Regions from separate parts of the Homo sapiens genome. Here region 2 is linked to region 1. The links come from fine-mapping of genetic effects on plasma protein levels. A gene starts in region 1. The other region holds a variant in brackets. All regions are shown on one strand. Distances are between the middles of the regions.

What was found. A credible set is the group of variants that fine-mapping cannot tell apart. PIP is the posterior inclusion probability: the model's chance that the variant is causal. The UK Biobank Pharma Proteomics Project read protein levels with antibody pairs (Olink). The fine-mapping took linkage between variants from a reference panel, not from the people measured, so its PIPs are less certain.
Region 2: its variant is the best candidate, but not a certain one, in a credible set for the plasma level of the NAP1L4 protein (UK Biobank, PIP 0.62).

Annotation. Positions count from the first base shown.
Region 1 is chr11:2,983,726-3,000,221 of GRCh38, forward strand. It overlaps NAP1L4 (nucleosome assembly protein 1 like 4), which reads right to left and starts at 8,604. Exons shown (of 16, transcript NM_005969.4): 1 at 8,529-8,604. RefSeq lists enhancers at 7,173-8,029, 8,574-8,868.
Region 2 is chr11:2,962,373-2,976,892 of GRCh38, forward strand. It overlaps NAP1L4 (nucleosome assembly protein 1 like 4), which reads right to left. Exons shown (of 16, transcript NM_005969.4): 4 at 13,652-13,751; 5 at 9,730-9,871; 6 at 9,076-9,162; 7 at 7,431-7,562; 8 at 2,308-2,379. It overlaps SNORA54 (small nucleolar RNA, H/ACA box 54), which reads right to left and starts at 1,521; the gene lies at 1,399-1,521. RefSeq lists an enhancer at 2,747-3,246 and a silencer at 3,954-4,154. The variant T/TAACAGACCTCTC (reference allele first, on the strand shown) is at 4,041.

The sequences.
Region 1 (16,496 bases):
AGCCTGGTTTCAAATCCTACCCCTATCACAGATCACCTGAAGCTCAGGAGTTTCAGACCAGCCTGGGCAACATGGGGAAACCTCGTCTCTACAAAAACAACAAAAAAAACAAAATTAGCCAGGCATGGTGGTGTGAACCTGTAGTCCCAATTCAGGAGGCTGAGGCAGGAGAATCGCTTGAGCACAGGAGGCAGAGGTTGCAGTAAGCTGAAATAACACCACTGCACTCCCGCCTGGGAGACAGAGTGAGACTGTCTCAAAACAAAAAGAAAAAAAAAAAAAATGAGGCTGGACACAGTGGTTGATGCCTCTGGTCCCAGCTACTTGAGTGGCTGAGACAGAAGCAACACTCAAGCCCAGGAGTTGGAGGCCTGGCGGCTGCAGTGAGCTATCACTGCGCCACTGAACTCCAGCCTGGACAACAGAGCAAGACCCTGCCTCAAAAAAAAAAAAAAAAAAAAAAAGGCAACAAACCCTACAATGGCTGGCTATGCTCACCACCACGACCACAGCAGCAACCCAAACCCAGCCCTAGTCAGTGAAGATTTAAAAACCCTTTAACAAAGGCCAGGTGTGGTGGCTCCCACCTGTAATCCCAGTACTTTGGGAGGCCGAGGCGAGCGGATCATCTGAGGTCAGGAGTTCGAGACCAGCCTGACCAACACGGAGAAACCCGTCTCTACTAAGAATACAAAATTAGCCGGGCATGGTGGCGCATGCCTGTAATCTCAGCTACTCAGGAGGCTGAGGCAGGAGAATCTCTTGAACCCAGGAGGCGGAAGTTGCAGTGAGCCGAGATCTCGCCATTGCACTCCAGCCTGGGCAACAAGAGCGAAACTCTGTCTCAAAAAACAAACAAACAAAAAACTAACAAACACACTTCAATGGTCCCCCGTCACCTTCTGCAGAATACACATTCCTACCAATTCAGGCCCTGTCTACTTCCCCATACTCATTCCCACTCATGCTCTTCTGCATAACCTTCCTCTGGACCTCAGTTTCATCATCCACAAACTAGAAGACAGTGGCTACCTGAGAAACTGTTAATGGAGACAAATTTCCTAGTACATAACAGCAGGCCAGGTCTCTTTTCACTTTTGTAACTGCCATGCATATAGACTACATCTATTCCTTGATATGAAACCAACAAATCAAGTTACTTTAAACACTGCACCCTTTATACAGGTTGAGTATCTCTTATCTGAAATGCTTGGGACCAGAAGTGTTTCAGATTTTAGAATATTTGTATAAACATGATCAGGTATCTTGGGGATGGGACCCAAATCTAAACATGAAATTCATTCACGTTTCCCACACATCTTATTCACATAGACTGAAGGTAATTTTATACAATATTTTAAATAATTTTGTGCATGAAACAAAGTTTTAACTGTGATCCATCACGTGAAGTCAGGTGTGAAATTTTCCACTTGTAACATTAATGTCAACACTAACGGAGTTTCAGAATTTGGAGCATTTGGATTTTTGATTTTGGGATCAGGAGTGCTCAACCTGAATAAGGAAAGACAATGTAGAGAGGTGGTATTATAAACAAGCTAGAGTTCAGTCAAGTTTCAGCACCACAAATTATTTTTGTTTATCAATCCCTATCACCCTTAAAACAGAAAGTTATAAGGAACTATCAAATATACAGGTTTGAGGAAAATAAATATCTGTTTGTTTTAAATGTTATGTTCAGTTTAATACTAGTCTTATAAAACCACAGCCCGAAGACTCATCCAGAAGGTTCTCTCACTTTTAAAAGGCAATCAAGGGATCTATACAACCTGGTGACTATAGTTAACAACAATGTATCACATAATTGAAAAATTGCTGAGAGTAGATGTTAAGTGTTCTTGTCAGAATCAGTATACCACCTAATGTGAATTAACTTGACTTAGCCATTCCACAATGTATAGTACTTCAAAACATCGCATTATACATCATAAATATAATTTTGTGTTAATAAATAATAACTAAAAATAAATAAAAGACAATCAAGTTAAATTATGAAAGGGATACCAGGCAAAAGAATGTTGTAAGTTTTCTAAAGTTCAGGTTCCCTCCCAAGGTCAAAAACTTTAACTGTGTCTACAATTCTAAATCTGAACTGGCAAGCAAATTTTCACCCAGTTAATTGGGTCGAGGAAAAATAAAATAAAATAATTCCCATGATTACACAAATGTTCTTTTATTTATATTAGTCACTGTAACAATCCTATTTATGGATTAATTTCTTTGTACCCCAAACAACTGTTTTCTTATGAAATTTTTAAAGATTTTTGTAACAAAATATAACCTTAAATTCCTAATTTTGAACTGAAAACATCTACTCCATAGCTAGAGTAACTATAAAATTGGGCCATGGCCAGGCACGGTGGCTCACGCCTGTAATCCCAGCACTTTGGGAGACCAAGGCGGGCGGATCACATGAGGTCGGGAGTTCGAGGTCAGCCTGGCCAACGTGGTGAAATTCCATCTCCATTAAAAATACAAAAATCAGCTGGGCATGGTGGCACACGCCTGAGGTCCCAGCTACTCAGGAGGCTGAGGCAGGAGAACTGCTTGAACCTGGGGGGCGGAGGTTGTAGTGAGCCAAGATTGCCCCACTAGACTCCAGTCTGGGCGACAGAGCCAGACCCTGTCTCAAAAAAAAAAAAAAGAAAAAGAAAGGAAAAAAAAATTGGGCCACGTTTGAGAGACAAAGCTAGAGAGTGTAGTCGTACTCCCCAAAACTTTTATATATTTACTCTGTCTTAATAAACTCAAAGGTCCTCAATGTCTTTATGGGAGATAACTGAAGGATTAAAATTAATTCAAATGTAATTAATGTTTTCACAAGACTCCTTATAATTTCCTTACAAATCCTATATATCCTACAAAATTAGGGATGGTAGTAAATTTTTTTTTTTTTTTTTGAGATAGAGTTTCGCACTTGTTGCCCAGGCTGGCGTGCAGTGGCGCGATCTCGGCTCACTGCAACCTCCACCTCCCAGTTTCTCCTGCCTCAGCCTCCCAAGTAGCTGGAGTTACAGGTGCCCACCACCATGCCCAGCTAATTTTTTTTTTTTTTTGTATTTTTAGTAGAGACAGGGTTTCACCATGTTGGCCAGACTTGGTCTCGAACTCCCAACCTCAGGTGATCCACCTGCCTCAACCTCCCAAAGTGCTGGGATTACAGGTATGAGCCACCGCACTCTAAGATAAATTTCTAAAGCACAATTGCTTGGCCCACATTCAGTCTGAGGAATGGCAATCCAACATTCTCAATCCAAGAGAGTCTGACCAGCCATTGGGCACAAGTTCAAATCCTCCAGGAGTACTGGATGTTTTAGATTAGGACATCAGAAAGGACAAAGAAATGATCTGTTCTCAGAAGGAATCAAGATACCCCTGTAGGACACCCCAACATCCCCACCCACAAAAGCTGGTGATTATACGAAGCCCTGAGACAGTCCAGATTTCATTTCTATTGCCCAGGCCAGTAGACTCCTGATCCAGTCTATCATTACCACTCTCCAGGATCAGAAGTTAATCATGTTGTTAAACTTTCCATGATAATGTTCTGGGTTTTTTGTTGTTGTTGTTGTTTTTTGAGGTGGAGTCTCGCTCTGTCACCCAAGGCGGGAGAGGGTCTCAAACTCCTGACCCTCAGGTGATCTGCCCACCTCAGCTTCCCCCAAAGTGCTGTGATTACAGGCGTGAGCCACCATGCCAGGCCCATGATAATGTTTAAAAGCAATGAATAGGCTGGGCACGGTGGCTCACGCCTGTAATCCCAGCACTTTGAGAGGCCCAGGTGGGCAGACCACCTGAGGTCAGGAGTTCGAGACCAGCCTGACCAATATGGTGAAACCCGTCTCTACTAAAAAGATACAAAAATTACCCAGGCGTGGTGGTGAGCACCTGTAATCCCAGCTACTTGGGAGGCTGAGACAGGAGAATTGCTTGAACCTGGGAGGCAGAGGCTGCAGTGAGCCGAGATCGCGCCACTGCACTCCAGCCTGGGCATCAGAGCGAGACTCCACCTCAAAAAAAAAAAAAAAAAAAAAGCAATGAATAATACATGTTTGCCCACTAAAGAACAAGTTCCACGAGGGCAGGGACCCTGTCTACTTGCTCAATACAGAAGTCCCAAGGCCCAGCAACAGACTCGGGATGAGACTGGTTGCCAAGAAATCTTTGCTTAACTCACTGCTACCAAATGACAACTTGTCTCTGTGTTACCAGTACCCAGCACGCATGGTGCCCGGGACTGCATGCACACATCTCAAGCAGTTTCTGAAGACACAGAGGAGAAACACTGCCTTAGTCATTCATGTTTGGTTACAAGATCTACTGAAATACCTGCCTCCAAACAGCAGCAGACTGTCTCTTCAGAGACTTCTGCGGTGCCAAGCCCTGGGGTTTCAAGAAGAAAGCAAAAAATGATTTCCTTTCCTTAACCAAAACACTACATTTTACTTGGGGCGCAGCAGTCTTTACTGCTGCACTCCCATCTCCTCCACCCTTCTTTTCTGGGCAGTTCATTAGCATACGACTCAATGAGGCTAACTTCTTAATCCAGTACATATTAAAAGATCTTGTCATCTTGTCAATAAGGCACTTCCCTCTCTACCTATTTCATATTGCAACCACCAAAGTCCCTACTCCTCTGCACTGTTTTTCAAAAGCACCTGCCACCATTGAACTTGTTCGTCTGTCTCCCATAGCAGAAACAAGGACAAAGACTTCTGTTTTATTCTGCGGGAGGCCCCAGTACCTAGAACTGTGCCCAGTACATAGAAGATGCTCATGAATAAGTAAACAGATGCAAATCACTGAAAGCTACTTTTCGGTAACTGAGTAAACAAGTACTATTTTAATTATTATACTTAAAACCTTTGCACATAAAAGTGCACAGTCATTCTTTCTACCACAAATTAAACAGAAATTATCTCATCTTGTTTTTGAACAGGCTTTTCCAGATAATGCACAGCGCATTTTTAAAAGTCCCAAGGACATGAAATGAACATACATTTCGTTTTTAACAGTTAACAGGGGATACTTGTAAGAAACTTAAGGTTACACAGGAAGTGGTCAAAATCAAAAAGTAAAGATCACAAAGTGATCTTTCGTTGTTTTCATACTATAAAAACACAATGCCTCTGTTACTAAATGCAAAATGTAAAGCTCTGGCAAACAAAGTAAAGCAACCCTGTTCTCTCTTAAGAGGGCAGGGTGGAAAACCAATGACTGCCAGATGAAAACTAATTTATATCACCACAAACTATTTCTTAAAAATTTCATTAGCAGCCAAATACAAAATTATTTACTATCTACCTACTGATAAGGGTTTTCCATTACTATATGCTCAAAGACAAACCTTACAACTATAGTTTCGGGAGGCATAAATTTGCTTACCTCAGGAGGTCCCACAAAAATTCAGCTGAGGCCAGGTAACAGCAGTTTCCTGCAGAGATCAGCTACTTCCTATCACCATAGTGGTCGAAGAATCAAACGAAGTAATATCAGATTTCTACTCTGGAAGCCTAAAACACTTTTCCCTTTAAGCAAAAAAGCAAGCATTCCTTAGCTAGCAATCTCAGGCCAAACTCCCAACAAGCTCATCTCTGCTGTCTTATTCAAATATAAACCATCATGGTTTCAAGCAGTAACAGCACTCGCCTATTTCACACAGCTGACGCCTCTTAGGCCGTCAGGAATTTAAATCACCTTCTTGCCCACAAAGTATTTTTCTTCCAAAACAAACTGAAAAATATAGGCTCTTTGGCAACATTTTTGGAAGTACAACATAAACTTATCACAATAATTTTTAAACTGCAGACAACTAAAGGGAAGGAAGAAAAGCACTACTATATATACATACATATTTGAGGTCACCTCCTCCTGATGCTAGAGACTATCAACTGCTCAAAAGAAGGAAAACAAAATAAAGATTTCAGTCCCCACACTTAGCTGCGAATAGCTAACAAAGGGAATTAACATGCGGTCAATAACAAGAGGCTACTAAAAACTCTGACAGGTTAGGAAGTTTTCATTTCAGTTTCAAATTCAAATTCATACTGTAAAGTGGTGATGAACACATCCCATCCGCAGGTACTTAACCTCCATACAAATAAGAACTACCTCTCATATGGGCAAAAAGATCAAAATTCTACAGAAGAATCTGATGGCTAAATGGCTAATTTGCAAAACACAATGCCCTGTACATTTTGAGGACATCCTAAAACATGTGTAAACTTTTCAGAATTCAGTTTACCAAAGTTATCAAACTTAAAAATGATTAAAATTTATTTGCTACTGCAAAGAATTCAACCAATTTCTCCAATGACTACTCCATATTCATTTTGAAAAACAGTACCGGATTTAAAGCTTACACAACAAAATTCACAAAAGTGTTATATGTGCCTATATGACATATAGGCACAAATAACTGCAGACATTCTGAAGCTAACACTGCTCAACCAGGAAAAAAAAAAGACTGCAATTGGATATGTAATAACAGCTATTTAAGACGGCAGTAACGTGTTAAAATGGTTCATAAAAATCACATCATAAGGCCCTGAAATTCTAGTAAAAATATCTCTAAGTAAACTTGTGAACTACTACTAAATAACTAATTTTCTCTCTCTCTGTAGTCACTCATTTTATCTTTGGATTACTTTCCCATTCTATCACCACGTTGCTTTCTCTGAACTTCATTTTACATTTGCATATTATTTATTCCATTAGCAATTGCTCATCCCAGTCTGAATCTCAAAATTCTACTATAGGAGGCATTTGGCATTCTGTGGAATAAGAGAATTTTGAGATGGAAATGATCAACCAGCTCAAAACCTCGTAAGCTAGAGTTCAGTTAAGCTTAGCACAATGATGAAAACAATTTCTCATTAAAACTTCTTTCATTCCCTCTACAGAAGCAGTAACCCTGGGTACAGTTAAAACTGCCTGGGTCTTTAAGCTTTGTCACCTCGGACAAGTCATTATACCTAACCTCCCAGGGCCTCAGCTTCCAGAGTAGTTAAATGGAAAAACAATAGCATCTATCTCAGGTTATTAGATTATGAAATGAGTTAACACACGCAAACAGGCTGAAAGAGTCCCTGGTGCGCAGTGCAGGTATTAGTCATTTAGAGGTATAGTTACTATTACAGGAAGGTAGTAACTTAGAAAGACTTACCTTTAAGGTCCAACAACCTAATCTACATATTTGTATATTTCTAAGGTAAGAGAATTTTTAAAAGTCTATTTTCACCCCGTAAACCTAATGCAGGAGGATAAGGCACGGGTTACTACAGGAAAAAGTAATGCAGACTGGGGGATGCGAACCAAAGCACAGACGAATGTGCCCCGACGATTCCTCCGAGAACATAATGAAATGGCGGACCTTCCTGCCAGAGGAGCGCACAGTCACCCAGGCAGGTGATGTGACACACACGTTAGGGTCTAAAGGTCCCAAGGCTGGAGTCCCCTTTACTGGACCCTAAACATGTCTGCCTCCTGCCCCGCAATCAGACTTAGAGAACTGTGGACGGTGGAAAGTCTTATCATGACCAGGCCATCCTTCGCTGGGGTGAACGGAAAGCATTCAGAAGGGGAAAATTGAAAACAACAAAGACTCTGGTCAGGTCAAAAAATACAAATGTGACCTCTTCCACCATCTCTGAACTGAAAGAAAAGCATGGCACTTTCCCATCCATAACATGTACAATTTTTTTTTTTGGAGATTTTGCTTTTCCCTTGTGAAAGACGGTTTTAAATAGTAAACAGACTTGCTGCCCACCTTGGCTGGGAAACCAAGTCCCGTGAGTAACTAGTCTAAGGCCACTCAGGCCAGTCCTCGGGGAGCGCACGCCGCCCAGCTCGCTCCCACCGCACAGCTCCCAACAGCTAAGAAGCAACGCCAAGGACTTTCTTCCCCGTCAGACATGCCCTCGGCCACACCAAACTGACATCAAAACCCCAGTTAGCCCAGCCTGACCCCACAGAGGCTCACGATGACAACCGCCCTACGGAAAAACTCAAATTCCTAAACATCTAATAAAGAAGTCCTGGACGTCTCCACCTTAAAAACGGGAAGCCTGAACGCTCCGGCGCGCCCGGCCGTGTAACCGCCACAGCCCCCGCACGCGGGGCGGGCTGGGCTAGCGGGAGATTTGAGCGGCCGCCGCCTCTCGCCGTCTTCGCCTCCTCCAAGGGGCCGCCGCCCAGGAGGCCGCCCGCGGCGCAGAACAAAGCGCCTTGACCTTCAGTGAGGCGGGCAGCCGGGCGAGGCGCGCCGGGAGTTGGGAGGGGCCTCCCGCCAGCGCCCCAGGCCCGGGCTCCAGGCCCCAAGCCCCAGGCCCCGCCGCGGCCGCCGCTGCCTGCCCCGACCAGAACGCGGCCCCGCCCCTGCCCCACCGCCCCGAGGCTTCCAGAGATGGCCGCCGCCGCGCCCGCGCCGGACCCGCGGCCCCACCCGCCCGTCCGGGCCCGGCCGCCCTCCCCAGCGCGCCGTTACCGGCCCAGCACCCGTGTCTCCGCACCTCACGCCTCCTGCGGCAGTGGCGGCGACCCTAGCTTCGCTCGCTTTGGGGCTGCGCCGCCGTGGCCTCCAACAACGCCGGCTCCCATTGGCCGAGGCTCCTAGCTCCTCTCTCCGCGAGCAAGACAGGCTGCGATTCGCCGAGCGCGGCGCAAGTCAACTGCGCTTCGCGCCGCAGTCAGCAACCAATCACAAGCCTCCGAAGAAACGCCGCGCCATATGCAAATATTCCTCCGCGCGGCGCGCGCCCTGCGTTCCTCCGCCTCTTTAAATGGGGCGGGGCAAGGTGGAGACCGCGTGTGTGGTTCCGGGGGGTCCCGGGTCCCCGCTCCCGGGACCTTCCCCGGGTGGCACCACATCCTCGCGGGACACTGGGCACCACCCCTCTCCGTGGGCCCCGGCCCCAGCCGTCTTTATCTCCTGCGCCCTCCCAGTTCCCTAGTTCAATCCCGTCCGCGGCGGGTCGGTGCCTCCAGCACTCCGTGCGCCCGCTGATGTGAGAACCCCACCTCCCATGTCGTCCCCTCGCGCTACTCCTTGAGAACATCGCGGAGGGCCCCTCCGCCTGGGAGCCGTTTTCAACCAGCCCCGTTAGTGGTTGGGACGTAAGCCTAACCCCCGCTCATCCCCCAGGTCCCAGGTTGGAGAACACTTCCTCTGCGAAGAGGTCGGGGCTGGGTCACCTCCGCGGACAGGACGGGACTAGCCACTGCCTGCATCTCTTCCCCCACGCCCTGAGCCCCGCAGTGTCCCAGCAGCCTAGTTCTGGCCTGCGGGAGACCCTGTCGGACAAGGAGGAAAAGCAGTGCGCACTGGGCCCTCAGATCAGCCCCCTGAAGCAGAGCAGGGCAGAGGGCTGGGGAGGAGCTGGCCTGTTTCGCCCGCCCTGTTCTCCCTCTCATGGTGCCCTCTGGGCTGGGGTGAAGGTACCAGCCCCAGCCTGTGCACATCACATTTTGTAGAAAGGCATCCAATTTGATTGGAAAATAACCCCTACGCTGGGACTTTTGAGGCTGGTTCATTTCCATGTTCAACCGTGCCATTGGGGGTCTTCAAGTCTAATGTGCATTTTTTTCAGAAACGTTCTCTTTTGGGATGACGTTACTTTTGAAACAATTGCTAATTATTATTATTATTAGCAAGTTATTCCTGTAATGGGGAAAATTTGAAACCATTTAAAGGCTCCTGGTTGAGGGATTAAGAACATAGCGTCGGTTATAAACCTCAGAGGTAAGCTGGGAGGCTGAGGCAGGAGGATTCCTTGAGCCCAGAAATTCAAGTCCAGCCTGGGCAACATAGTGAAACCTCATCTCTAAAAAGAAATTAATGCGGAGCGCCGTGGCTCAGGCCTGTAAACCCAGCACTCTGGGAGGCAGAGGCAACAAGTCCAGCCTGGGCAACATAGAGCACCCTTCCCCTGCTCCAAAAACAACAACAACAAAAAATTACCCAGGCGTGGTGGCTCAGGCCTGTAATACCAGCTACTTGGGAGGCTGAGGTGGGAGAATTACCTGAGCCCGTGAGGTCAAGGCTGCAGTGAGCAGAGATTGGGCCACTGCACTCCAGCCTGGGTAACCAGAGGGGGACATTGTCTCAAAAAGACAAAAAAAAGGCCGGGCGCGGTGGCTCAAGCCTGTAATCCCAGCACTTTGGGAGGCCGAGGTGGGCCGATCACGATGTCAGGAGATCGAGACCATCCTGGCTAACACGGTGAAACCCCGTCTCTACTAAAAATACAAAAAAATTAGCCGTGCATTGTGGCGGACGCCCTAGTCCCAGCTACTCGGGAGGCTGAGGCAGGAGAATGGCGTGAACCCGGGAGGCGGAGCTTACAGTGTGAGCCGAGATCGCACCACTGCACTCCAGCCTGGGCGACAGAGCGAGACTCCATCTCAAAAAATAAAAAATAAAAAAAAAACTAATTAAAACAAAAAACATAAAAACCCCTCAGAGGTGACCGGTGCATGGCTGAGGCCTGACCCACACAGCGTGCTCAGTCCTGTCTGGCCATCTGTGTTTTAGGAGAGGGTGTGTGTGCTCTCAATTCCTATTTTACTTATTTAGACTTTCAGACTTTTCTACAAAGGTCATGCTTTATGCTTTGCGGAAGCATAAACAATGATAGAAATGACACAAGAACCTGGGCATTTGAAGTTTGGAGGGTCCTTCCTCCCATCTAATAAAGTCTCAAGACCATTTGCAGTAATGGGATCCCCCTGCTCCTGGATGTTGGGGTTGGTGGGGGTGGCATCCGGGTGGGTGGATCCTCTGAGGGAGCTGGGCCTTGGGGCTGGGGGCAGCTGGACCTGCTCCCTGGGAGATCTGCTGGAACTGGAATGATTGTGGTGGTGGTGTTTTTCTCTTGGTGGTTGGTGGTTTCTCTCCTTGGAAGATTCTCATTTGGAAATAGAGTCTTCACAGATGCAATTAGGTAATGAGGTCGAGTGGGCAGATTGCTTGAGCCCAAGAGTTCGAGACCAGCCTGGGCAACATGATGAGATCCCATCTCTACCAAATATCTAAAAATTAGCTAGGCATGGTGGTGCATCTATAGTCCCAGCTGCTTGAGAGGCTGAGGTGGGAGGATCACTTGTGCCTGGGATTTAGAGGCTGCAGTGAGCTGTGATCATGCCACTGCACTCCAGCCTGGGTGACAGAGCAAGACCAAGACCCTGTGTCAAAACAAAGAAGTCCCCAGATGACACTGACATGCAGCCAGAGCTGAGGGCCACTGGGATCAGGACTCCCAGGGTAGCTGGCGCTTGGTGAGTTTCATTCCTGTTTTCCCAGCGCTGCCTCTGCCAGGCCTCAGGCATGAGCCCACCTGTCTACAACCCCTCTGCTGCCTCAGCCTCCTCCAACCTGGAGATCAAGAGTCCCCTCCAGAGGCTACCTTGCCTGTAGTTCTGCTCTTGGCTGCCTTGTCCTCACTGAGGCTCCGGGAGACAGTCCCGGACAGACACCACGTGTTTCTTCTTCACATTGCCAGCACCCGGAAAAGTGCCTGGCACTTGGCGAGCTGTGCCCTTACCTGGGCGCTACTGACAATGGCTACACCTTGGCCTGGAAGTAGAGGCAGCAATCACTGCCCCATTCAACAGAGGAGAAAACAGAGAAACCCCTCTAACGCCCCCAGCTAAGTGGCTCTGGCCCTGGAGGGGGCGGCCATGCCCTTCACCTGTGGTGGGGGCGCTACTCCTCAAAAGACCTCGCAGCCGCCAAGAGCTGGAGCCGAGGCCTCAGAAATGCCCAAAGCCCCCTCAGTAGGCTGGGGGCTCAGCCTGTGGGGCATTAACAAAGTGGGGCCCTGGAGACATCCAAGAGAGGTGGCTGGTTTCTCCTGGTATATGGAGAACAGAAAACACCCATGGCGTACTCCACACAAGAGGGGTGCGCAGACAGGGAGTGCCTTTGCAAGCTTCCCGGCCTCAGAAAGAAGGCATCTGGAAGACTGTACCCCAAATGTTGTAGGGATTTGAGAGGTAGGGCACGGGGTCTTTCAGTTTCTACTTTATATTGGAAGTTTTCCGTATTATTTATTTTTAAATAATGAATACATGACGTTTTTATAGTAAAGACACCAAAGATTGCTCTTTGGGGAAAAACAGGAAGATGTAAATCTGGCTCTTACAGCTGAACAGAGCTTTCATGTACAGAAAAGAAACACTTTCCACAGGCAAACTAATATTATACAAGAAAAGTGTCCACCCCACGTTGTTCCAGAAGGATCTGCTGCAGCCTGACAGCAAGAGATTGCAGGGTAGGGAGGTGCTGGGGTCCTCTTGGGGGCCAAGCCAATGGCCTGGGCCCAGCCAGCCTATTGTCACTGCAGGCCCTCGGACCCAGCCTGGGGAGACTGGAGGAAGTCAGGGAAGGGCAGAGAGAAGGCGCACCGGGCAGTGGGCCCTCAGAACGGGGAAACTCCAGGCAGAAAAGCGGCCCAGAATCACTCTGAATTGGGGGGCGTGAAACAGGGGCCACAGCCTGGCCCTACTGCAGTCCAGGTGGAGCCAGGCCTTCACCAGCTGTGGGGACCAGGCGTGCCCCTGGCAATCTGGATACGTTTTTGTGCAGCCACCACTGGAAATGGGGCACACGCCACTCCTTCTTGCCTCCTTGGATGGCACCGCGGCTTTGGGCCAACCTCCGCTCACCCCAGTGGTGGCAGCTAAAGACAAGGGTATTTCCTCATGGCCCAGTTGTCAGGATATTTGATACATGGTTTCCAGCACAGGCCAGTAAAGAGGATACACTGTGGAAGGGATTGCTGCTGCTGCAGTGCCGGCTGCACTTCATCAGTTTCCTTGGCTAAAGGATACTGAGTTACAGGTTTCAGGCTACTTTGTATCTCATTAAAGACACCTCTCCATGCAGCCGCCATTATCACACTAACAAAATTAGCAAAAATCTTGACTGTCATCCAATACCTGGTCATTCAAATTTCTTGAAATTTTTTTTTTTTTTTTTTTTTTGAGACGGAGTTTCGCTCTTGTTGCCCAGGCTGGAGTGCAATGGCGAGATCTCGGCTCACCGCAACCTCCACCTCCCGGGTTCGAGCGATTCTCCCGCCTCAGCCTCCGGAGTAGCTGGCATGTGCCACCATGCCCAACTAATTTTTTTGTATTTTTAGTAGAGACAGGGTTTCTCCATGTTGGTCAAGCTAGTCTTGAACTCTCCACCTCAGGTGATCCGCCTGCCTCAGCCTCCCAAAGTGCTGGGATTACAGGCATGAGCCACTGTGCCCGACCCCCTTTGAAATGTCTTTACAGCAGGTTTGTTCAAATCCTTCAAAGATTATCCCTCAAACCTGGTGGTTTTGTTTCTCGAGTCTCTCCCAGTCCTTCTCTTCTGCCCTATTCTGCTCCCTTTGACGCAGACGTATTGAAGATGCCAGCCGGGCATCTGGCAGAATGCCCCACCTTCTGCACAAATGTGGTGGCTGCTTCATGGCCTCACCTGCATTCTCCCTCTGTTCCCAGTATTTCCTGCAGACAGGAAGTGAGCTGGACAGCCTTGCTCCTGAGGGGGCTGTAGCCCGGCAGCACAGGCCACAGCTGGGAGACTGCAGGAATGCAGAATCTTGGGCTCCTCCTAGACCTGAACTGAAATTTGTGTTAACAAGCAACCCTGGGCAGTTTATACGCACATTCAAGGTTAAGGAGCCCTAGCCTAAAAGCTGCATTCAATACTGACTTATACTTTTAGAGGAAATCCTTCTTTTTGTTGGGGGGCTGACAGCCAGGGCCCAACATCAGAAAGTAACACGTATCCCCTCCTGGAAACCTACAAGTTACTCACAAGGTGACACTTTGGCATCAAATTATCCAGCACCTACCAGCTTTCATCCAGGGGTCTCAGCATCCGCGGTCAGCCCCTGCCTGAATCAATGACTTCATTCGGGGTTGCAGAATGGAGATGTCTGATCCTGGTGCTTCTTCCCTTAGCTGGCATCTTTGGGGGAAAGAACAACTTTCCCCTTTCAGCTAGGGCCATTTGGTGGCCCTGAAATATACTTCCCATGCAAGGTAAAATACTTGCTTCTGTCACTAATGAGTAACTCTACAGAAAGGAGCTGACACAGGCCACCTCCAGTAACGACAATATGTTTTAGCTTTCTCTAGTTTTGAGAATAAATACAGATGCCTGGAGTTTTTTTTTTGTTTGTTTGTTTTTGTTTTTTGTTTTGAGACAGAGTCTTGCTCTGCCATCCAGACTGGAGTGCAGTGGTATGATCGCAGCTCACTTGCAGCCTCCACCTCCCATGCTCAGGCAATCCTCCAACCTCAGCCTCCTGAGTAGCTGGGATCACAAGTGCGCCACTACACCGGCTAATTTTTTTGACTTTTAGTAGAGACAGGGTCTCGCTATGTTGCCCTGGCTGGAATCATTCTTTTCAATGCTCAAATTGTCCCAAACTTAGCCAGTAGGAGCTCCTGAAGCCTTAAAGTAATTATAGGTTTCCAGAAAACTGCACAGTTTGTTTCCTGATGGTCACACCTTGCCTGGCCAGAGTTCAAGATCAACACAGGAGACTGACATTGGTACAATGTGTGTGACTCTACGTTGTGCTATCACATATGCAGATTTGTGTGATCACCATGGAAACAAGAACACAGAAGTGCCCTCCCCACCAACCCCACCTCCTACTGTCCCTGTGCAGTCACTCCCCTCCACCTGCCCCCGCCCCCCCACCATCTTTAACCCCAGCTACCACCATCTGTTCTCTATTCCTACTTGAGAATGTTATCTACGTGGAATCACATGGCATGCAACCTTTCAGGGGTGGCTTTTCCAAACCCAGCAGAATGCCCCTGACACATACCACCCAGCTGCTATGTGTCACTACCTTGTCCAGTGTCCTCCTGACCTGACTTCTTGGTGTTCGAAAGCTCCCCTTTTGGGGCACAAGAGTGCCTGGGCTCAGCTACTCCTGCTGCTGCAGACCTGGAACTGGCCATTTCTCCAGGGGGTGGGATGGGGTTTAGAGCCCCAGATCGGGGCTGGGGCTGCTCAGTGCCACCAGGGCTGCCTTGCTTCTCCACCCTTCCCATCTACACAGTCAGGAAACAATCTACTTTTTAAAATCACAAGTTACTTCATATTGTTTTTTCTAATTCGTATTTAATAGTAAAGTGATTTTCCTTGACTTCTTTGATATTTTATCGTCTTACATTAAAAACTTGATTGCTAGGCTGGGCGCAGTGGCTCACACCTGTAATCCCAGCACTTTGGGAGGCTGAGGCGGGCGGATCACTTGAGGTCAGGAGTTCAAGACCAGCCTGGCCAATATGGTGAAACCCCATCTCTACTAAAAATACAAAAATTAGCTGGGCATGGTGGCGCGTGTCTGTGATCCCAACTACTTGGGAGGCTGAGGCAGAAGAATAGCTTGAACCCGGGAGGCGGAGGTTGCAGTGAGCTAAGATTGCTTCCCTGCACTCCAGCCTGGGTGTCAGTGATCTTATTTGTGTTGGCATACAGGGTTTGAAAATTATAATGCCAATGTTATTACTAACAACAAAACTATTGAATTGACTTTTCTGTACTTTCTTTGACCTTAGAAGATACCCCATTAAAGATGTGTAGCAAAAAATGGCCAATTCTCAGAAAGTTGAAGTTCTTTTCTTGAGGTTGCCAATTTGATTTATGTTTTTGTGCCAGATGGTACTTTCTGAAATAGCTGCAGTAGTATTTCCCATCCCTTCTGGAACCCAGTAATGCCCACCACAGGGTAGTGTCTATGCCTCCCCCTCCGCACGAACGTGGGTGGGCCTTGTGACGGCCTCCGCTAGGGAGGACGGTGGAAGTCAGGACATGACCTCCGAGGTTAGATCCTAAAAGGCCATATAGCTCCTGTCTCTCTCTCTCTCAGGACTCGCACCTTTGGAGCTATAGGCTGTTGCAACAGAAATCAGCCACCGTGAAGCCGCCAAGCTGGAGAGATCACACACAGGTCTCACAGAGGTAAAAGGTGCCCAAGCAGCCCTAGTGTGGGACCCAGGCACAAACTTAGAGATGACCCCATCTGCCTGCAACTGAAAACCAATCAACTGAGCCCAGTCAATCCAGAGCCATGAGTTATTAACATGATCATTGTTGTTTTCAGCCATGAAGTTTTGGGGTGATTTGTTAAGTGGCAACAGATAACTGGAACATGTTTGTTTTACTTTGTTTGGGGGACTTTTCTTTCTTGCTGGTTTAAATTTTTTTATATATAAAATACTGACAAGGTTCAAAGTCAGGCCTATCAATACCCAGAGACTGTCCTCATTGATTTATAACCTTAGTGCTCCCTGCATAATTGGGTGGGTGCTCTCAAGCTGTGCCAAGCACCCTGCTGATGCACAGACAGGCTGGTTCCAGCCTTTTGCTGTGTCACACACTACTGCAGTAAACAGCATGCGCATGCGGAGGGCAAGGACAAAGAATTGGCGCACCCACAACCCAACACTGCCACACTCCCCATGCT
Region 2 (14,520 bases), 22 kb before region 1:
TGTGGTGTGGCAGGAGCCGTGTGGCACACGTGTGCACTGTGTATCCAGGTAGGCAAGCGCTCAAGGGAAGGGAATGAGGCATGCTGCAAAAACACCAGTCAAGACTCATTTTGAAGTTTCATTTATCTTTATAACTTAAAATGCATTAGACGCTTCATAATAATTTTACAAAGGAAAAAGAGTATGGGGAAATTCACTAAGCTGCTGAGATTTACTTTTAGAAGACAGATTTGTATAGTGTTCTTTACACTTGCCTGTATTTTCTACATATGACTTTTATAATAGGGAAGTAAAAAGAAAAAAAAAAATTACTGGTCCACAGTCTACCATAACCAGAGCTCTAGTCTATGAGTCACAATGAGATGGAGAAAAATAAGATGACAGGCTAAGAAAGAAAGAAAATTGACCTAGGAAATCATCAAACAGGTGTCCAATAAGAAAAAAAGAGGCCGGGTGTGGTGGCTCATGCCTGTAATCCCAGCACTTTGGAAGGCTGAGGCGGGTGGATCACGAGGTCAAGAGATTGAGACCATCCTGGCCAACATGGTGAAACCACGTCTCTACTAAAAATACAAAAATTAGCTGGGCGTGGTGGTGCGTGCCTGTAGTCCCAGCTACTCGGGAGGCTGAGGCAGGAGAATCGCTTGAATCCAGGAGGCAGAGGTTGCAGTGAGCCGAGATCATATCACTGCACTCCAGCCTGGTGACACAGTGAGACTCGGTCTCAAAAAAAAAAAAAAAAAGAAAAAAGAAAAAAAAGGAAGAAAAGAAAAGGAGAAAAAAGAAAGGAAAAAAAAAGGAACTGACCCAAAAGGGAAAAAAAGTTAATTGCGTCTGGATGAATCACAGGTAAGAAAGAAGTACAAAGAAAAAACGCACAGAAACTTAAAGCACCGCACGCTCACACCATGGGGAAGAGAATGCACACCAACGAGGGCAAACTAGGCAGACGTGCCCAGGCGGCTCCTGGGGGCCCTGTGATAAAGTCTAAACAGAAGTGATGCAAGCCCAGGAAGAAGGACCTGCTATAACCCACATGGGGCAAGGAAGATGGGGTATCCCCTCTGGAGGGCAGCCCCCAGCTGGTGAGCAGGCATCACTCCCAGCTCCCAGGGCCCCACCTAGAGAGGGACACCTGAATGTCACCTTCCATAGTGGAAAACAGACAGGAAAAAGTAGAAGAGACAGATACAGGTACATCCACTGCCCACCCCTGCTGCTGCCCCAGGCATTACTTGCAGCACTTGCAGTGAAGAAATCCCACTCCTAGTGGCCCTCATCCATTAGCCCAGGCCCCAGTGCTGAGATGGGGAGGAAGGAAGATACTGGTGACTGGCCCCAGGCCCCTACCACCATCACCCACACCCAAGATCCCTAACCCACAGCCCGTCATGCAGCATTTGTCTCCAAGACCTGAAACTGAAAGCCACCAGTCAGTCAGTCATGTGTCGCTGGAAATGCTATTGCACCGGAATGGAACCCATTAGCTACAGCCAGGCTAACGGGTTACGAACAGTGCTCCCTGGGAGAACCAGGCTGGGATGAGACAGTCTGGCAAGGCCATTTGAAGATGAGCATATGGTTCCTCAGATAAAAGTAAGGGCTGACCTAGTCAAGCTTATCTTACCAACTGGTAGGCTGATCCATGCCACTAACATTACTAATGCAATGATATGCCATGGCAAGCATATTGTAAAGACGTGTTTCAGGACAAATCAAAGAGCAGGAAAACATTTTTCAGTCTTATTTGCGCTTTTTTTTTTAGGGTAAAACCTAGTAGGTTCAGATTTCTGAATAAGTGCTGATCATTATGTGTACATAGCTCCCATCTTTTTAAACGTTAAACATATACATTAGATGCATGCAAACTTCAGAGACACTTGGGAAAAGAATGGTATCATCTCCACCCAACAGAGTAAACAAACAAACTACAAGACCAAGGCCTGGCACAGTGGACAGCACCACTACAGCCCAGGAGTTGCAGCCTGACTCCTGCATTGGTGCCCACCTGGCTGCAGGGTCTGGGGCATCACATGGTCTGCATCACTGTCAAATCATCCAGCACAGACTCACGACTACAGTGCCAAGCATGACACAGAAAGGCAATGGGATCCCCATCGAACTCAGGGAGCAAACACACAATGCGGTACTCAGTCTAACTCTTGGAGAGCAGTCTCGCCCAGGGCTGCCCAGCAGATGAGTGGCTGGGTGTGGGTTTTGTGGGTTTCTTGCCCCTGGCTCCAAGTTCTTCCATCTTTGTGGACTGACCCTGTCTGATGCCAACCAGAAGGTCAAGTCAGTACTCACCATAGGCTGTCCAGGGTCAGAAAATTTCACTTTAATATCCTGCAGGTGTTTCAAGATTGGTTCATCATATTCCTAATCAAAAAGAGAAAAAAAATTCCAACAGGCTTTTAAAAAAACAACACATCTCTCCCGAAGAGTCATGGTTGCAGAGGCTCCCAGATGTTGCATAACTAGCCCTATTGGAATTCTGTCCTTGTCAAAGTAATAACTACCAGGAAGAAACCCAGACTTATTCACCAACTCCCTGTCATAGAGAAGCAGCACCAAGGTGTCCCCTTTCCCTAGTGTGGAGCAACGGTGGCTGCCACTGCCAGCAAAGGGCAGTGCCACTGACACCCGCCTGCCTGCAATACTGGGGCAAGGGCCTTCACTGCTTTCCTGCCACCAGCTGCCACTGCACACAGAGATCAGAAATGCTACCAACCAAGACTGTTGGTCCTCAGCCTCTCTGAGGAGAAAGAGCAGAAGCCTGGAAGTCAGAAGAGAAGGCTAGATCGGCTACGGCCTTGGCAGCCAGCTTCCCCACCTGTGGCAATAAAGTTGTGCATGGCTTAACAATGGGGGCACCTCCTGAGAAACACATTGTTAGGCAATTCGGCGTGTGTTCATCAGAGCATATTTACACAAACCTCGATAGTGCAGCCTACTATCCACTATTGCTCCTACGCTGCAAACCTGAACAGCATGGGACTGTACTGAATACTGGAAGCAGCTGGTGATGGTACTTATTTGTGTATCTAAACACAGAGAAGGTACAGTAAGAATATGGTATCATAATCTTACAGGACCGCCATCCTATATGCAGTCTGTTGTGACCAAAATGTGTTATGTGGCTCATGACTGTATCCAAAACTCACAATACACACAGTCACTTCTTTATTTTTTTTGAGACGGAGTCTGGCTCTGTTGCCCAGACTGGAGTGCAATGGTGTGATCTTGGTCACTGCAAGCTCCGCCTCCCGGATTCAGCCTCCCGAGCAGCTGGGACTACAGGCACCCGCCAACCATGCCCGGCTAATTTTTTGTATTTTTAGTAGAGACGGGGTTTCACCGTGTTAGCCAGGATGGTCTCGATCTCCTGACCTTGTGATCCACCCACCTCGGCCTCCCAAAGTGCTGGGATTACAGGCGTGAGCCACCGCGCCCGGCCACACACGGTTACTTCTTTAAGAACACTTACACAGAGCGTGTCTGAGATCCAACTTGCGGGCACCATGGAAGAGTGGGCATCATGGAAGAGCGTACAATTCTTATCTGTGTCTGTATCATTTTACAAGTGATATTTCTTTAAACTCATTTTGCCAATACCTGTCAGCTTAGAAAGTCCCAGTGAGGAAAGTCAGAAGAGGAGTGGGAAGACCTGAATCCTCAGAAACACGCACTGGCAGCAGGCACTTCATTTGTAACATGGCAGTCACTTCTTTACCCCCAAAGTCTGGGCACTGAATCTCAAAATGTCTTGAAGTTGCATTAAGTTTTTCTTAAATCATTTTTTCTCTTTTTTAGTTGTATGTAATAATTGTACTATTTATGGGACACAGTGACATTTTGATGCACGTACACAATGTGTAATAAATCAGGACCATCACCTCAAACATTTATTTTTGAACATTCAAAACCCGTCCTCTAGCTTTCTGAAAACACGCACTAAATTATCGTTAGCCACATTCACCCTACAGTGCTACAACACACCAGAACTTACTCCTCCAATCTAGCAGTCACTCTGTATCTGA[T/TAACAGACCTCTC]AACAGACCTCTCCCTATTTATCCTCCCCTCTCTCTCCCTCTTAGCCTTTATCAACAATTCTCTGCTTCGGTGAGCTGTTTTTGTAGCTCCCACATGAGTGTGAACGTGAGGTATTTCCCCCCTTTCTGTGCCTGATTTTCCGTTGAGTCCTAATTTTCAACTCTTCTGACATAAAACAAAACAAAAACAGCAACAAAAAGATACCTGCAAGTATCTAGACAAAAAGTAACCCAAAGGCAGTTGTGAAATGGGCCACACCTGCATGCGATGTTCAGTCTCCAATGCTGCGCGTGCCACCCACAGAAGCATGCGCTGGCTCTAGATCACCAAGATGAGCACTTCCACCAGCATGCTTTCCAGAGATGGCACTGGGACTTCAAACTCATCCCACTCAAAGACGCAGTGCCCACTCATGTTTTCCCAAACTTCATAAAATAACCATTATGTTCTAATTTCCTCAAGCAGCCATGTACCCTGTGGGTCAAAACTTTAAATGTCCAGGGCAAATATTAAGGTAATGCCCCACACTGGCAGACGCTCAGACTCAGGAAGCAAAGGCACAACACTGGAGGCATCGCACTCAGATCGTAAAGCCACCATCTCAAATTTTCCACTCTCCTTGCAGAAATATATTTCAACTATCCCCAAATTTAGAACAAAGGGACTCAGAGTTAATCCGCCTTTGGAATTTAATATTTGACCAAAATGAGCTGGGCATAGTGGCGCATATCTACAGTCCCAGCTACTCGAGAGGACCCCTTGAGGCCAGGAGACTGAGACAGCAGTGTCCTGACTGTGCCTATGAAAAGCCACTGACCTCTAGGCTGGGCATCATAGCAAGACCATGTCCCTTAAAAATGAAAGGGCTTCTCTCAGAAATGGCAGACTTCAAAACCAGACATTAAAAAACAACTGTTGGCCGGGCACGGTGGCTCACGCCTGTAATCCCAGCACTTTGGGAGGCCAAGGCAGGCGGATGATGAGGTCAGCAGATCGAGACCATCCTGGCTAACACAGTGAAACCCCGTCTCTACTAAAAATAAAAAAATTAGCCAGGCGTGGTGGCGGATGCCTGTAGTCCCAGCTACTCGGGAGGCTGAGGCAGGAGAATGGCGTGAACCCAGGAGGTGGAGCTTACAGTGAGCCAAGATCACGCCACTGCACTCCAGCCTGGGCGACAGAGCGAGACTCCGTTAAAAAAAAAAAAAAAAGAAAATATTGTTAAAAAAAAAAATCAAAATAGAATATGCTACCATTACCTGCTATGAGGTTACAAACAGTACAAATAACATTTCCTCATTCTCTGCATATTAAATGAGTACTCTATCAACCCCTGCATATCTTTTTAAAGCTGTTAAAACAAAAAGCAACAAAAGACACTTCATGGCTGAAATGCTGAAGCACTGACACTACTACAGAGGTGCTGGGAGAATGAGAAGGGACACCCCATTTAAAATGTGGCCAAATGCCTCACTGTGCTCTCAAAACCCAAGGCAGCACTATCCATGGCCAGTGACCCCAATGCCATAACCAGGTGGCCACACGCACAGAAGGGGACACCAAAACTCACTCAAGTCACCTAACTCTAGCTCCCAAACCCTGTTATCACTGCACCCCCAATCCCACGTGAAGATGCTCCAACCCTGCAGTGCAAGAATCACCCCAGGGCCCATGAGCCAGACAGCCCCACAGAACCAGAATCCGCACTGCCATGGCCACTCCCCATGCCCCCCGAAGTCTGAGAAGAACGAACTAAGAGCTAGTCTTTCCACCTGCTCCCTGCCATGGAGATTTTCAACTCTCAGGGTGCACATTAGAGTTCCTAAAACCAACTCAAAACTCTCAGTGCCATGGTGACAGATGAGGCATTTAGTTTTTGCTATTTAGTTTTCAAAGCTGCTCAGGTGATTGTAATACACAGGGTGAGACTACGGCTCTGGTAGACATTACTTAATTTTTCCAATGAAATTCTGGTGCATGGCATTCTTTTAAAAGTATGGTCTAGTCTTCTTAAATTCCACCTTTTCATATGAAAAGGAAGCTCAGATCAGGAAAAACCAAGGCTGTTCTATTTTAGATGCTTTCTGGTCTGGAAGGAGAATAAGAAATACATCATTCTTTCCATCTTTTCTCAAGTTTTGGCTTAGGACACAGGACAAGCATTAAACAAGGGAGGTAGCAGAGGCAGCAATGTGATACATTTGTGAAAACCATTAAAAACCGTAGCTGTAAAATCCTGTGCAAATTACAATGTAGCAGTTTGCAACGCACAGTGCCTATGCTCTGTGATGGGAGAAGCACTCTGCCCACACAAGCAGAGCCTGCAGCTGTCCTGAGCAAGTCTGAATGCAGACGTGCTGTTTCTGGGGACGCTGGAGCAATAAAAACTGACGGCAAGTCAGTCAGTGAGACTTAAGGCAAGATTTGTTTCTCTGTTCTAGAAACTTCTATTATAACTCATTTCAGGGAAAACCAAATTTGTTACCTTTTAATTTGTTCACCATTTCACTACAGAAAGTGAAATGTCAAGGCAAGACAAAATCAGAAATGGTGGTTGGGTTTTGTTGTTGTGTTGTTTTTTTTTTTTTTTTTTTTTGGAGACAGGGTCTCGTCACCCACCAGGATGGAGTGCAGCACCGTGATCACAGCTCACCACAGCCTCAACCTCCTCGGCTCAGGTGATCCTCCTGCCTCAGCCTCCCAAGTACCTGGGACCACAGGCGCACACCACAACGCCCAGCTAACTTTTCTATTTTTTGTAGAGATGGGATTTCGCGATGCTGCCCAGGCTGGTCTCAAACGATCTGCCTACCTTGACCTCCCAAAGTGCTGGGACTACAGACATGAGCCACCATGCCTGGCCTCTTTTTTTAAAAAAAATAGACACTTTTTCAAGAGAAATGATCAGAAAATATTAGCAACTTGTTCAAAAATTCACTGAGATGTGTGTGTACACACACACACACAAACAAACACACAGCTCATCCCTTCAAAATTCATTCTGCTCTGGTCTCCTGCCCTCACCCTTTCCTGCACACTCACACCACAGGAAGACAGAGATGGGCTCTGGAATCTATTCATAGGCTTTCCCACAGGCAAGACAACAGAGCTTTACAAGAGGTAAAAGGAACTGATTTGAAAGTTTTGGATCAGGCTGAAGCGCCCAGCTTTCCACCAAGAACTGCAAAAGACAGCATGGAAGCCCCACTGTGAATAAACCATTCACTGTGAGATCAGGACTGCTCATCTGAGGTCCTGGTCAGAGAAAGTGCCCTTCCGCCCACTATGAACAATCTTTCAATGCCCAGTGTAGTGCTTAAAAAATGCCATAGATAAGTAATGTTAGAAGACTAGCACATAATCTCTCTACAAGACAGAAGTGTGCTTACCTGGACTAATTCACTCAGCATGTCCACATTTCTGAAGATGGTAAACCAGAACTCTGGAATTCCTTTGGGATCTGGCTCTTCAGCCGTTGCCGCTGCTTTTTCTGTGACGACTACTTTACTTTTCATGTCTCCCTAAAAAAAAGATGCAACATAGGTAACGAAAATAAAAGTTTACAAACAATGCAGCGGCTTCACGTAGAATATCGTTGCCGAATCCTCTACTATCTCCCATCAAACACCTTGCTTTCTAAGTCTGCACCTCCAAACCACTCACTGGGCCACGCGACACTTTTCAGATGCTTCTGAGGAAAAAGCATTCAAGTCATTACATCCACACGGAATTCCGTACCATTTCACATCAAAGGCGAAGAAACTAAAGAGATGACAAAGTGCCACCGACGCTGGGAAAGGCCATCCAGTGCTAGCTCTGTGAGGTGCCATCCTGAGACAATCATCATCACAAATGCAGATGCAAAGACTGTACATCAACCTTAAGGAGATGCAATGCAAATATGCAGAACATCTAGCACTGGGCAAAAAAAGTCCAGTGCAAGGATAAAGAAGTTCACTTGGACTAATAATCTGACCTCTTGTTAAAATTTGTGGGGTGCTAAGTTGAAATAAAAAAAAAAAAAATTGCCGCAGCAGTATCTGCAGCAAGAAAGTGCTCAGCAACTTATCCAGCTTGTAAGGAAGTGGCTATAAATGCCAGCTCAGACACCACGCAAGCATCAGAAAGTGACCAGAAAGGCCACATGGCAAAAGGAAGGGGAGTCAGGCCCCAGGGAAAAGGTAGACCAAGGGAGGTGAAACGCAACACCAGATGCAACTATGGGAAATTCTGAATGCCTTGCCAAACGGGATTGTTATGATGAAATGATCTTGAAATGAAAGGCCTTTTAAATCAGCAAAGGCAGATTTCCCTTGAGCTGTTAGAAACTGATTCACAACTGTATTAATCCACAGCCATGGCTTCAATTAGGCCAGGTTCTATATATTTTTAAAGCATCAAAAACACATATGGCTACCAAAATCATCATATACCACCCCCCCCCCAAAAAAAAAACTGCAAAAAGTTAGTTATAGGATAAAAGTTACTTGTCTCCCAAACATAAAATCAGGCTGACAAAGTTAATCCATGGTACACTGGGAGTTTTCACAGCACTGGAATGGGACCAGTCACTAGAAAAAGGCTGTGAGCAGGTGACTGATGGCCACACCACAACCACCATCTGCAACCAATCCACTGGCGGAGCACCTCTCAGGGGGCAAGCTAGTCCATGCCACTGAGCAGGAAGGCACTCCCCTCACAACTCCCCCAATCTTCCAGTGACTGAGAACACAGGGGCATCTCTTCTTCATCTTTGCTTTCTCTGATGTTTTAATCTTTGTTGGTCTGATCCCTTATTTCAATATGCTCCTGTCCACAGATAACTGAGGTGGCACTACATCTTACTCCTATTAACTGACAGTACTGTGTCAGATGCTAGATCCATATCAGAAAGGAATCTAAACCCAACCTAATGATGCAGCAGCACCTACTGTTAGAAGCACATAAGTTTACTAGTCATTAAAAATCATTAAAAAATGCTTATTTTTAACAGTATTAAAACAGAACATGAGTCACATGTTTCTAAAGACTTACAGCCAATTTCTCTTCCTCTTCATTTTCACTGTGCCATTCCGATTCCGCATCTGTTGGTTCAACATCGCCGGTGATAAATTCTCTTCTCTACATAAAAATGAGACCTTATTAGAATTATGTTATTAGCTTACTTAGGAACTCAAGAGTTAAATTTATAAATAATGTCTACTAAAAGACTTTGAAAACTGGATATTTTTATAACTTATTTTAAGATTCTAAATTTTAGGGTTCAAAGAAAAATATTAAATGATTCCCTGGGTAAACCTGGATGTTTCACCTAAAGATGTAAAATAAAGACAGTCCCCGATTTCCAATGGTTCAGCTAAAGATTTTCAACTTCCTGATGGTGCAGAAGCCATCACACTTTGGGCACCAATACAGCCACACTGTGTTCCTCTCTCTGTGTAGGGTTCAATACATTACGCGAGATACTCAGCACTTTATTATAAAATAGGCTTTGTGGAAGATGATTTTGCCTGACTGCAGGCTAATGTTAGCGTTCTGAGCTTGTTTAAGGTAGTCTAGACTAAGCTATGTTTGGCAGGTTAGATGCGTTCTTACCCTAGATGTTGTCAACTTATAATGGGTTTATCGGAACCTAACACCTTCGTAAGCTGAAAACTATCTGTATATTAAATTAACAGAGCTCCCTACCTTGTCAAAGAGAGGCTGGTATAGCGCTGCATACTTTCTTTCCAAGTCATGTACCTCTTCATAGAACTTGGCTTCTATGTGAGCACATCTCACCTGAAGTTGTTTCAATGCATTAATTCTTCTTTTTACTGCTTTAGGTAAACTAAAAAAGGGAGTAAGAAATACAACATCCTCATGCCTGCAAAATAAAGCAGCATGCTTTTCAATTTTATTAAAATAAATTTAGGTTAACATGGAATCAACATCCTTACTATGAACAAGACCTCTTAAAAATTAAGAAAAGGACAATACCCCAACAGGAAAAAAAGGATACAGGAGGAAGCAGAAAAAATAATTCACAAAAGAAAAAACACAAATTGTCAAACATGAAGAAAGATTCAATTTCATAAAATATCCAAAAGAATGCAAACATTTAAGAACACTCAGCTTTTCCTTACCAAATTGGCAATTAAAAACCAAAACAAAACACCCAGGTTTTACGAGGCTAAGGGCCAAGAAGCCCTCTAACTGACTCATCTTTCTGAAGGGCAGAAATATTGAAAATGTTCTTTGGACCCAGTAATTCTATTTCTAAGAATTTATCCTTAAGGCTGGGCGCAGTGGCTCATGCCTGTAATCCCACCACTCTGGGAGGCCAAGGTAGGATTGCTTGAGGGCAGGACTCCAAGACCAGCCTGAGCAATACAGCAAGACCTCTCTCTACAAAAAAATTTTAAAAAATTAGCAAGGCATGATGGTGTGCGCCTGTAGTCCCAGCTACTCAGGAGGCTGAGGTGGGAGGATCACTTGAGTCTGTGAGGTCAAGGCAGCAGGGAGCTATGATTGCGCTACTGCACTCCAGCCTGGGAAACAGAGCAAGACCCTATCTTACCAAAAGGAAAAAAAAAAATTTATCCTAATCAAGTATTTATGCTGGAGTGTCCGTCGATAGATCTGTACAAGTGAAAAACTGGACAATGCAAGTGCAACAGCATTCAAATATGGCCTATTCATAATCACACTGTCCAGGAATATTTAGTGCCACGTGGGAATCCACACTTGTTAACACACTGGAGGAAAAAATCTGAGAAACACAGACCACAGGCAACACAACTTTGTCCTGGAGAGTCAGGTCAACTATGAGTTTGCCTTTCAATTCTGTTCTATGTTTTAAAAAATAGTTGTTATGTATAACTTTTATAAATCAGAAGAAAAATCCTTGTTTAACCCATCAAAACTATTTGTTCAAAACGAAGCCCCTGGTCACAATCATGTGGACTGAACAGCAGATTCCTGGCCTCATCATAGACCCAAATAATCTACCTGGGGCAGGGCCCTGGGTCCTGCATCTTGAATACTCATTCACACAATCAGAGTCTTCAAGTCTAAGCACTTGACTTACCCTCCAACAACAGACAGCACAGAGCAGTAGGCAAGTCACACACACATATCACTGGTCTGGGAGGTATTAGAACAACTGCCTTGCATCCCAAAGGACCACTCTCCTGGGTGAAATACAACCACAGCTACCTCAAGCTAAAGGTCCTTAGTTTAAGCAAAGACTCTCAAATAATGCTTAACATTCTAGAACTACTGCTAGTAGTAGATGAAAAAAAGGGAAAAGCAGAAAGAATTTAACAAAATGGTAGACTCCCACTGCCATTTTTACCCCTTTTCTGCACTGGTCATTCATTCATTCATTTATTGTGACAGGATCTCACTCTGTTGCCCAGGCTGCAGTGCACTGGTGCGATCTCGGCTCACTGTAGCCTCAACTTTCTGGGCTCAAATGATACTCCCACCTCAGCATCCTGAATAGTTGGACTACAGGGGCACATCACCATGCCCAGCTAATTTTTTTGCATCCTGTAGAGTAGGGGTTTGACCATGTTGCCCAGGCTGGTCTCGAACTCCTGAGCTCAAGCAATCTGCCTGCCTCGGCCTCCCAAAGTGCTAGGATTACAGGTGTGAGCTACCATGCCTGGCTAATTATACAATTTTAAATTAGTTTAATTTTTGAAGCTTTCCAACTGAAGTAAAATGACAAAGGATTTTTTTTTTTAATTATACTTTAAGTTTTAGGGTACAAATGCACAACGTGCAGGTTTGTTACATACGTATGCATGTGCCATGTTGGTGTGCTGCACCCATTAACTCGTCATTTAGACAAAGGATGTTAAACAAACTGGACCCTAGTGTGCCCCCAACAGTCCTTCAATCATTCACACCAACTACACCCAGCCCTCTGCCGGCACTTTTCCTGCAATATGGCTAATATGGAACCACTTCTAGTCCCACATAAACCTGATCCCACTCAAGCAGTTCCTCTCACAGAATGCCACCCCACCAACCCAGTTTCTAAAGCGAGAAAACTAGAAACCATTACTCATTCTCATTCTTGCCACTCCCACTCAGTATCACCCCATCCCATCAATCTAGTCTGCAAAAAAAATAACATCAAAACACCTTGCCCACTAAGTAATCTCTGAGAAGCTTCTAAATGGGCAAAGCAAACTCTGAATGTCACCTTCTAGGCCAGGCGCAGTGGCTCATGCCTATAATCCCAGCACTTTGGGAGGCCAAGGTGGGCAGATCACCTGAGGTCAGGAGCTGGAGATCAGCCTGGCCAACATGGCAAATCCCTGTCTCTACTAAAAATACAAAAACAAAACAAAACAAAACAAACAAAAAAACACGTGCAGCAAATCACCATGGCACATGTATACCTATGTAACAAACCTGAACACTCAGCACATCTACTCCAGAACGTACAGTGAAATAAATAAAACTACAAAAAACTAGCTGGGAGTGGTGGCGTGCACCTGCAATTCCAGCTACTCAGGAGGCTGAGGCAGGAGAATCACTTGAACCCGGGAGGCGGAAGTTGCACTCCAGCCTGGATGACAGAGCAAGAGTCTGTCTCAAAAAATAAAAATAAAAAATAAATGTCCCCTTCTTGTCGTAATAGCCCTGGCAGTCCTGACTGGGGAAACCAGCTGGAAGGTGGGGCCTCCTGGGAGACCAAGCCCTGACCCAATTATAGATGGAAGCCCAGTAACAGCTCATCCCTTTAAAAAAAAAAAAAAAAATTGCCATGCATGGTGGTGCATGCCTATAGTTCCAACTACTCTGGAGGCTGAGGTAGAAGGATTACTTGAGCTCAGGAGTTCAAGGTTACAATGAACTATTACATGCCACTGCACTCCAGCCTGAACAACAGTGAGACTCCAACTCAAAAACCAAAAATTCCTTCCAGAAGTAAGAGAGGTCCTGACAAGAGCCATCCTAGGATTCTAGGATCACCACCCTTATCATTTTCATAGTGCAATACATCTAGCACATAGGCCTCTCTTAAGAAAGCAAAGGTGTCAGCCAGGCACGGTAGCTCACCCGTTATCCCAGCATTTTGAGAGGCTGAGGCGGGAGAACCAATTGAGGCCATGAGTTCAAAACCAGCCTAGGAAATACAGTGAGACCCCATCTTTTTTTTTTTCTTAAAGACAGTCTCACTGTCACCCAGGCTGGAGGGTAGTGAAAACTCATAGGCATGCGGCACTATGCCCAGTTTTTTTTTTTTAAGGTGTTGGTGTCACAGGCTCATGTGGGTAAGTCAGGAAGGAGTGGTTCTCTTAGTTTAACTTAGGAGCCACCAGCTGTCCTCTCCAACTCAGATGATCTGTGAAGTCCTCTAGCCCTCCACAGGATGGCACTGTGCACTTCCTATCAGAACTGACAGGTCACGCTACTCCATCCACCAGGCAAACTCTCAGCCTAGGCACCGGGTAGGGTCACTCCTCTCATATCCCAGTGCCTGTCTCTCATAGACAATGTCTTGGAACGAAAAAAACATTTAATCCTGTTCTGGGGAACTGAAAAGTGGTTTTTCCTTTATTTTCCTTTTGTTTCTCCAAATTGCATGAGACCCTATTCACAGCACACTTACGTTTCGATGTAGCTGGAAGGGGTGTGAGGGACATTGTCAAGTCGCTCCTGTAAAGCTGCCAGAACTCGAGGATTCTGCATCACCTGATCTGTGAGCTTTTCTATGAAGAGTTAAGACCAAACATATTTAAAATATGCCCACCACACACAATAGCCAAGAGTCAAAAATTAGTAACATATCTACTTAGCTTTGCCTAGATTTACATCTACTAATTTCTAAATACATACACCAGTGACTTCTTAAACATGTTTTGAAAATAATTAAAATTTATTTTAAGAGCATTTAACACTCTGGGTTAATCACCTGATGGGTAGTTACAAATTTACTGAATAAACACCTAGAGAGTCCTGGCTCTCACCAGGACTGTGGCTGTTTAAGCACCAGACTTAAACAACTGAGGACATCATTAATGTAAGTTCACATGGTCTACCCCCAAGTCCCATGGTGGTGTCCAGAAGCCACGAACAGAGATGAGATCAGTTCCTCAAAGTAAAAGAGCATCCACTAGCTCCCTTGCTCACTGTGGTGCCATAGACTTCACAGTCCAGGAGAGCCCAAGGCTCACTAGCTCTCTGCCAGCACTGTTCCCTAAGTTTTCTTTGCATGTGCTACTCGCCTCTGCCTTGAATGTCCTTCTGCCCAAACCCACCTCCCTCCAGGAAGCACTTCTGACCATTCCACCCCACTTAGGGCTAACCTACATGTGTAGTGAGCTCACAATACCAAGCTGTTTGTATTTATAAGCCCATTTCCCAATAAACCAATGAATGAGATCCTGACAAGGTAGTGACTGTCCTTTTACCCAGTTGTGACTATGAAGTGGCAGACATCTGGCTCATGACACAGACTCTTAACAATCTCCCTCTTAA